Linked DNA regions of Homo sapiens. The protein of the gene in region 1 interacts with the protein of each later gene in a pairwise test. Each region holds a gene or a part of one and is shown on either strand. Other genes may lie near its edges. The genes, in order: ZNF439 and CLIC6.

Evidence for each region.
Region 2: the proteins of ZNF439 (region 1) and CLIC6 interact in a two-hybrid assay, tested with the Homo sapiens proteins (one large-scale study listed by BioGRID and IntAct).

The regions. Positions count from the first base shown.
Region 1 is NC_000019.10:11,865,407-11,869,986, reverse strand, and holds the end of ZNF439 (zinc finger protein 439), read right to left. Parts: intron 4,346-4,580; exon of another isoform or gene 3,831-4,345; coding exon of another isoform or gene 3,783-3,830; coding exon 3,656-3,782; intron 3,451-3,655; coding exon 3,390-3,450; intron 2,682-3,389; coding exon 1,418-2,681; 3' UTR 501-1,417; downstream 1-500. UniProt on the Homo sapiens protein: May be involved in transcriptional regulation.
Region 2 is NC_000021.9:34,706,760-34,710,578, forward strand, and holds part of CLIC6 (chloride intracellular channel protein 6), read left to right. Parts: intron 1-520; coding exon 521-630; intron 631-1,184; coding exon 1,185-1,310; intron 1,311-1,940; coding exon 1,941-2,047; intron 2,048-2,597; coding exon 2,598-2,779; intron 2,780-3,819. UniProt on the Homo sapiens protein: In the soluble state, catalyzes glutaredoxin-like thiol disulfide exchange reactions with reduced glutathione as electron donor. Can insert into membranes and form voltage-dependent chloride-selective channels.

The DNA.
Region 1 (4,580 bases):
TATTATGAGTGAAAGAAAAATTAGGGTTGAGGCTGGGCGCAGTGGCTCATGTCTGTAAATCCAGCACTTTGAGAGGCCGAGGCAGGAGGATCACAAGGTCCAGAGTTCGAGACCAGCCTGGCCAATATGGTGAAACCCCGTCTCTACTAAATAATACACATAATTAGCTGGGTGAAGTGGTGCATGCCTGTAGTCCCAGCTACTCAAAAGGCTGAAGAAGGAGAATTGTTCAAACCTGGGAAGCAGAGATTGCAGTGAGCCAAGATCACACCACTGCACTCCAGCCTGGGCAACAGAGTGAGGCTCTTTCTAAAAAAAAAAAAAAAAAAAAAAGAAAAAGAAAAAGCAAAAGGAAAAAAAAAGAAAAATTACAGTTGAAATAAAAATTAAAGTACATAAGCATGAAAAGTAAAGTTTACATGAGGAAAAATATGCCTGGCATTTAATCCAGGTAATGCTGATTCACAATATCCAAATAATAACAATGTAACATTATAAGCTTGATCTAATACATGACACCAATGGATATTTTATTATAGCTTCTTAATTATTTAAAAAGAATAACATTTGTTAGTATACAGTTATTATAAACAGTTAATTGTTTACATTCATTATTTGTATTCAAAGAATCCTAGCCGATCTGAAGGCTTTCCCATACTGCTTACATTCATAGAGTTTCTGCCAAGTGTGAGTGCTTCCATGCATTTGAAGTCTTGAGGCTGATCTGACGGCTTTCCCACATTGCTTACATTGATACGGTTTCTCCCCAGTGTGAGTCCTTTCATGATATTGAAAAGAACTGGAAGAAGTGAAAGCTTTTGCCACATTGCTTACATTCATAGGGTTTCCTTCTGGTGTGTCTTTACATGTCTATGAAAGCAATTAAGCAAGCTGAATGCTTTCCCACAATCCTTACATTCATACGGATTCTCTCTCGTATGAGTCCTTTCATGTATATGCAAGGAAGAAAAATAATTGAATGCTTGTTTGCATTCCTTACATTCATAGGTTTCTCTCCAGTGTGTGTTTTGCATGTATTCAAACGATCTTGGCAGATATGAATGCTTTCCCACAATGCTTACATTCTTAGGGCGCCTCTCCTCTGTGCAACTTTCATGTATTTGAAAAGAAGAGAAATTATGGAACGCTTTTCCACATTTCTTACATTCATAGGGTTTCTCTCCAGTGTGTGTCCTTTCATAAATTGAAAGGTTCTTGACAGATCTGAAGACTTTCCCACATTGCTTACACTCATAGAGTTTTTCTCCACTGTGAGTCCTTTTAGATATCGAAAGGAACTGGAACAATTAAGGCTTTACCACATTGCTTGCATTTATAGGGTTTCTCTCCAGTGTGAATTTTTTCATGTGTTTGAAATAACTTGGCAGAATAAAAGTGTTTCCCATATATCTTATATTTATAAGGTCTTTCTCCAGAGTGCATTCTTATGTGTTTGTGTCCTTTCATGAAATCGAAAGTTCTGGACATATCTGAAGGCTTTCCCACATTTCTTACATTCATAGGGTTTCTCTCCAGTGTGAATCCTACGATGGATTCGAAGTTGTGAGGCAGATCTGAAAGCTTTCCCACATTCCTTACATTGATACGGTTTCTCTCCAGTGTGAGTCCTACCATGCAATTGAAGATTTGGGGCAGATCTGAAGGCTTTCCCACATTGCTTACACTCATAGGGTTTCTCTCCAGTGTGAGTCCTTTCATGATATCGAAAGGAACCGGAACGAGTGAAGGCTTTACCACATTGCTTGCATTTATACGGTTTCTCTCCACTGTGAGTTTTTTCATGTCTTTGAAATGACTTGGCAGAATAAAAGCCTTTCCCACATGTCTTACATTCATAAGGTCTTTCTCCAGAGTGCATTCTTATGTGTGTTTGAAAACTTGTAAGAGAGGATAATGCTTTCCCACACTGCTTACATTCATAAAGTTTTTTCCTAGAGTGGGTCCTTTCATGTCTACGAACATAACGGGGACACATGAATGCTTTTCCACATTCCTTACATTGATAAGCCTTCTCTCCCATGTGACTCCTTTCATGTCTGTGACAGGATCTGGGACTATGGAATGCTTTCCCACATTCCTGACATTCATAAGGCTTTTCTCCAATGTGAGTTCTTTCATGTATTCGATGGGTAGCAGAATAACTAAAAGATTTACCACATTGTTTACATTCATACGGTTTCTCTCCAGTGTGAGTTCTTTCATGGATAAGATATAAACTGAGACAATGGAATGCTTTCCCACAAAACTTACATTTATAAGGTCCATCCCCACTGTGCACTACCATGTGTCTTTGAATGCTTGAATGGTAAATAATGTTTTTTCCACATTCTTTACAAGCATAGGGTTTCTTTCCAGTGTGATCCCTTTCTTGTGTTCTCAAGGAGGGGTGATATCTGAAGGCTTTTTTAGGTTGTTGACTCTTCCATGGCTTTGGTCCATATTCCTGACATTCACATGCCTTGTGTCCAGTGTCACCTCTGATGTTCATATTAGAAGATGAGTTACCTAGGCCAACTTCACACACAAAGCTGTCACATGATTTTACTTCAGGAGAAGCTTTCTTCTTCTGGAAGTTCAGCCTGTCATCTGGAACTGGGGTAAAAGTTTCTCCACAATGACTGTCTTCTTTAATTTCATTGACTTTCTCTTCTGTGACACTCCTGTCAAAAATGAGAAACAAATTATGAAGAGTTTGTTTATAAGTAATTTTATATTAATCAGCAAGTATTGTACTTGCATTTTTAACACTCTCCATCAAAGTGTAGGCTTTCTGCCCTGTCTGAATTGTTTGAAGGTGACTGGACAACACATTCTACAAGGTGACCTAGCCATACCTATTATTTAAAAAAATGTTTATATGGGGCTTCTTAATACTCTTCCCATGTAAACTATTTTAAAATACTAAATACTCTGTGTCATTTTTCTTTTGTTTCAGGGTCTTGTCCTGTTGCCCACCCTGGAGTGCAGTGGTATCATCATAGCTTACCACAGCCTTTAACTCCTGGGGGCTCAAGTGATCCTCATGTCCCTCATGTCTCAGCCTCCTGAGTAGCTGGGACTACGGATGCATACCACAATGCCCAGCTAATTTTTTGCTGTTGTTGATATGTGGTCTTGTTATGTTGCGCAGGCTGTTGTTGAACTGCTGGCCTCAAGCTATCCTCCTATCTCCATGTCTCAAAGGACTGGGATTACAGGAGTGAGCCCTCAGCCTTGATCACATTTAAATATATATTTTTAGATAAAATATTGTATGAATAAATGAACTTGATCCTGGACTTAGTTCTTTGTTTTACTTATTTTTAACATAGTCTCATATTCTAAGATCGTGTAGAGAGACACTGCTTTCTCTTATAAGTGCAAATTACCTGAAGTTTCTCCTGGGGTTTTGGTACTCATATTCAATGTTCTGGTCTTTCCACTTTTTTCCTAAAATACAAACACAGAAAAATAATCCTGAGGCAGTATAAAATTGTGAAAAAATTATTAGACCTATGCCCATGATTTACAGCAGCCATGCCTCATTTATTCATCAAAGTATTTCCTGTCTGTGTTCCAAATCACTCAACAGCATTGGTGAGCTAGAAACATTGGTAAACTAATGCACTGAGGGAAGGAATATTGTCATCCTTACCTATAGAGGTCAGGTTCCAGAAAGTTTCCAGCATCACTTCCCTGTAGAGATTCTTCTGGGAAATATCCAGCAAAGCCCACTCCTCCTGGGTGAAGTTCACAGCCACATCCTTAAAAGCCACTGGGTCCTGAAACATCTCACATGTGTAGAGGAGGATGGGTGAGAGTGACAGCATTGGGGGCCTAGACTCTATTCCCAAGAAGTTCTCAGGATGCCGTGGACTCCAAACATTTATTCCCTGCTTTGGTCATCAGATCCCTTTCTCTCTGTCTATACTTACTTTCTTCCATAAAGCAATTTTTTTTTTTATTTTTTTGAGACAGAATTTCACTCTTATTGCCCAGGCTGGAGTACAATGGTGCAATCTCGGCTCACTGCCGGGGTTCAAGTGCTTCTTCTGCCTCAGCCTCCCGAGTAGCTGGGATTACAGGCATGCACCAGCATACCCGGCTAATTTTGTATTTTTAGTAGAGACAGGGTTTCTCCATGTTGGTCAGGCTGGTCTCGAACTCCCAACCTCAGGTGATCCACCTGCCTCAGAGTCACAAAGTGCTAGGATTACAGGCATGAGCCACCACACCCAGACAGCAATTTTTTTTTTTTTTTTTTTTTTTTTTTTGTGATAGTGTATCGCTCTGTCAGCTGCTTGGGCTGTCCCTAATGTCTCCTTGGACTGTGGGTCTGTAGCACCTGTCATAACAGAGTACTATGAATTAATATGCAGAAAAAAGTTAACATTAGCAGTCCTGAAGCTGTGTATCCTTGAAAATGCCTGTTCCCAAAGTGTAATCTTTGATGACATTGTTAGAGAAGGCAGATATCTAGCCAAGAGCAGGAAGGGTAGCCCCTGGGAAATCCCACAACCCCAGGGACCACCCAAAACAGGCATGCTAGATATAAGCAGAGAGGAGGGGAGACACCTAAG
Region 2 (3,819 bases), on another chromosome or scaffold:
TTCCATTGTGGTGTAGTATCTCAAGGCATGGAAATACTACACTGACACAAGTATTCTACTCTTGATAGTATCTGGGTTGTTTCCAGGTTTTAGCTATTATACCAAAGCTGCTAAGAATAGTTGATCCTTGGAGAGGATCGAGAGATAGAGGGAAGGAAAGGGCGTGTCTTTCTTTTTCACATTGGTGATAAAGGGAGTTCCCATTGCTGCTCCTTCCATCAGTGAGCTGCTGCTCAGAGGCCCAGTGTGGCAGGCAGTGGTGAGGTGGTGGGGAAGGAAGAAAGAAAATGCTCAGTGCAGTGCATACATGTGCATGTGCGTGCGTGTGTGGTGTTCTCTCCCCTAACCCCTACATCCACCGCCAACTCCACATTGAGGCTGGTAAAATGGCCTCAGGAGGATATTCGCAGCATCCTGACCGTTCTTATCAACCTGCAATGATTTTGCATGTGCATGTTGTGGTGTTGGCACTTATAATTGTGAGACTGGCTCAGATAGAAATCTCCTTCTCCACTTGTAGGCTGGTTATGATGGTGAGAGTATCGGAAATTGCCCGTTTTCTCAGCGTCTCTTTATGATTCTCTGGCTGAAAGGCGTTATATTTAATGTGACCACAGTGGACCTGAAAAGGTAAGACAAGGCGTCTGCCTTACTGAAATAACTGTACCTAGTTCTCTGCACACACACACACACACACACACACACACACACCTGAGGCCAACGGTGCTGCATGGGCACGTCCATCCTCAGTCGGAGTCTGAACTGAAGCCCACATGTGGGCCAAGCAGTCATGACAGGGTCGGCTGGGCTGGAGTCAGGAAGGAGGAGGAGTTGGGGGTGCCGTGAAGAACCTGCTTCTCCAGTTGCTGGTCAGCTGTGACTCTCCCAAGCCTGTCTGAGCACCATCCCTGGCTGATAACACTGGGGAGAGTTAACTTTTTCACCTCTGTTTGTTGATATGCCCCTTTGTGCTCCGTATTCACAAAGGGGCACCTCAACAAGCCCATCATTTGTTAATGAATGCCTTTACTTTCATCGCCAGCAAGACATTTTCATAAACCCACCATCTACTTTGCAGTTCTCAAGAGTTGCTTCTCTTAAACTGGTGAGGACGCGGCTAAGCCCTGGAAATGAGTCCAGATTCTCACGGTGGCCCATAAACACTGCTGTTTCCTCCCACCTAGGAAACCCGCAGACCTGCAGAACCTGGCTCCCGGAACAAACCCTCCTTTCATGACTTTTGATGGTGAAGTCAAGACGGATGTGAATAAGATCGAGGAGTTCTTAGAGGAGAAATTAGCTCCCCCGAGGTAGGCCTCAGAAAACCAGTGTTCATAACTTGATTGTCACTTTCCCCCACTAGTAGTCAGTTCTAAAGCTCTGGGCAGTGTGTGTGTGTGTGGTTTTCTGCAGCCCACGGTGCTCACTTCCTTAATCATAACCCTGGTGTAACCAGATTAGAGTTCGGGGACCTGGGTTTCATTGTGCTGCACCTGCAGCTTGGCAATCACAGTTTGATGGCAGGAAGTGGGAGGAGATGGGTCCAGGGTGGGTGGTTGGCTGTATCCTAGACACCCTGCTGGAAGCTATGGAGTATGTGTTAGGAAGAAGTATCATGGATTTTTGGACCTCGGGGGAGCTATTTCTACTCCATCCCCTTCGTTTTACTAGGGAAGCACCTGAGACCAGCAAGGCCAGGTGGGGTCCTGTGTCCCAGAACTGGCCACTGCCAGGAAACAGCAACAATCCAAACCTCTCCGTCCAGTGCCATTCTCCTAGATGTTGTTACTTCCCAACCTTTGAGAGGAAAAGGGTCAGGAAAACGTTGAAGGAAAGCTTTTCATTTTTATGCCCAGAGAAAGCTGTTTTTCTCCATTGTATAGTATTATCTTCACTAAAACATCACTTGTCTGTGATCCTCCAATTTTGAACTTTTCAAGGTATCCCAAGCTGGGGACCCAACATCCCGAATCTAATTCCGCAGGAAATGACGTGTTTGCCAAATTCTCAGCGTTTATAAAAAACACGAAGAAGGATGCAAATGAGAGTGAGTACCTCCCATCCTCCTGTTTTGTTTCAACACAGACTTGAGTCTTAGCATGGCGGCCCATACGCTCCTGGGGTATTCCCATCTATTTCCCAGTGGGTAGAGAAGTGAGTCTGGAGCTACAGAAAAAGTGCCTCCAACTTTGAATCTGCACGTGGGCTTCAAGAGATGAATGCTTCTTTTGAGGCTGGGAACTCAGAAAACAACATTTTTAGGGAAAATAGTCATCACCCAGGTGTTCCGGACACACCATGGGAATCATGTTCAATGATGTTTCTGCCAGTCCACGTCTCCCCACAGGCTTTCCATAAGTATTTTTGAATAAATAAATCACTTCTAGAAGGAGCAATATTGTGTAGACAGCAGTGTGATTTTCCAGGGAGGAGTGAGCCCTTTATTCAGATATTCTACATCCACCTGCTGCCTTCCCAGCACCCATTGCTTGCTGGCCACATCTCAGCGAGGAAGGGAAGCAAACTCCATCACAGCTGGTGAAAAGTGACATGCACTTGCAAACCTCTCTTTGTGATTTCTTGCCCTTCTGTTTTAGTTCATGAAAAGAACCTGCTGAAGGCCCTGAGGAAGCTGGATAATTACTTAAATAGCCCTCTGCCTGATGAAATAGATGCCTACAGCACCGAGGATGTCACTGTTTCTGGAAGGAAGTTTCTGGATGGGGACGAGCTGACGCTGGCTGACTGCAACCTCTTACCCAAGCTCCATATTATTAAGGTTCATCTTCCCTCCCGACACGTGTGCCGAGTACACGAACGGGGCTTTGTTTTATTTTGTTTTTACTTGTGTTTGGGCCAGACATTTAAACAGTCTGAAATGTGGAGACTTGGATTAAAAACACTAGTTCTGTTCGGGGCAGCCAAGCCCCAGCTTTCACACACACAGAAGATGGGCTTCGGGTGTTCTCAGAAAGTGCCTGGGAACATGGCCCCACCTTCTGCTTCTCTCTCAGCCTTACTCACACAGCCTAAAGACAGGTTATGTGAAAGCAGCCTGAGGAATTTCGTAGATTATACCTGGTGTTAGCAATTGAGAATTAGAGATGAGGCTCGTAGAATCTGGGGCTATTCAAATGTGAACGCAGTCTACTGTTGGTGATTGTAGGGCTCCACATGGCCCCTTCTAGGGATGACAGAGGAGTGTTCTATTAGCTTTTAACAGTGACCCTTGGCCAGGTGCAGTGGCTCATGCCTGTAATCCCAGTGATTTGGGAGGCTGAGGTGGGAGGATTGCTTGAGGCCAGGAGTTCAAGACCAGCCAGGGCAACATAGCGAGACCCCATCTATACAAAAAATAAAAAAAAAAAATTAGCTGGGCATGGTGGTGTGTGCCTGTAGTCCCAGCCACATGGGAGGCTGAAGCTGGAGGATCACTTGAGCCCAGGAACCTGAGGCTGCAGCAAGTTAAGGAGGTGGCACTGCACTCTGGCCTGGGTGACAGAGTGAGACCCCATCTCTAAAAACAATTAGGTTATTAATTATTTATTTATTTTAAAAAAACATTGACCCTCAACATCCAGGAAGCAGCTGGCAGCTTTTGGCTGAGTCTCTGCCATATTTGTTGCCCTGCCTTCCCATATAGTAGCTGAACATGATTTAAGAGCCATGAGTCATGTATTATTAGGGCTTAAAGACCTGCCAGACCCGTGGTTCTCCAATGTTAGTAGGCATACAAACTGTCTGGGGAGCTTTTTAGAAATGTGAGTCCCCGGGCCAGGCATGGCGGCTCACGCCTGTAATCCCAGCACTTTGGGAGGC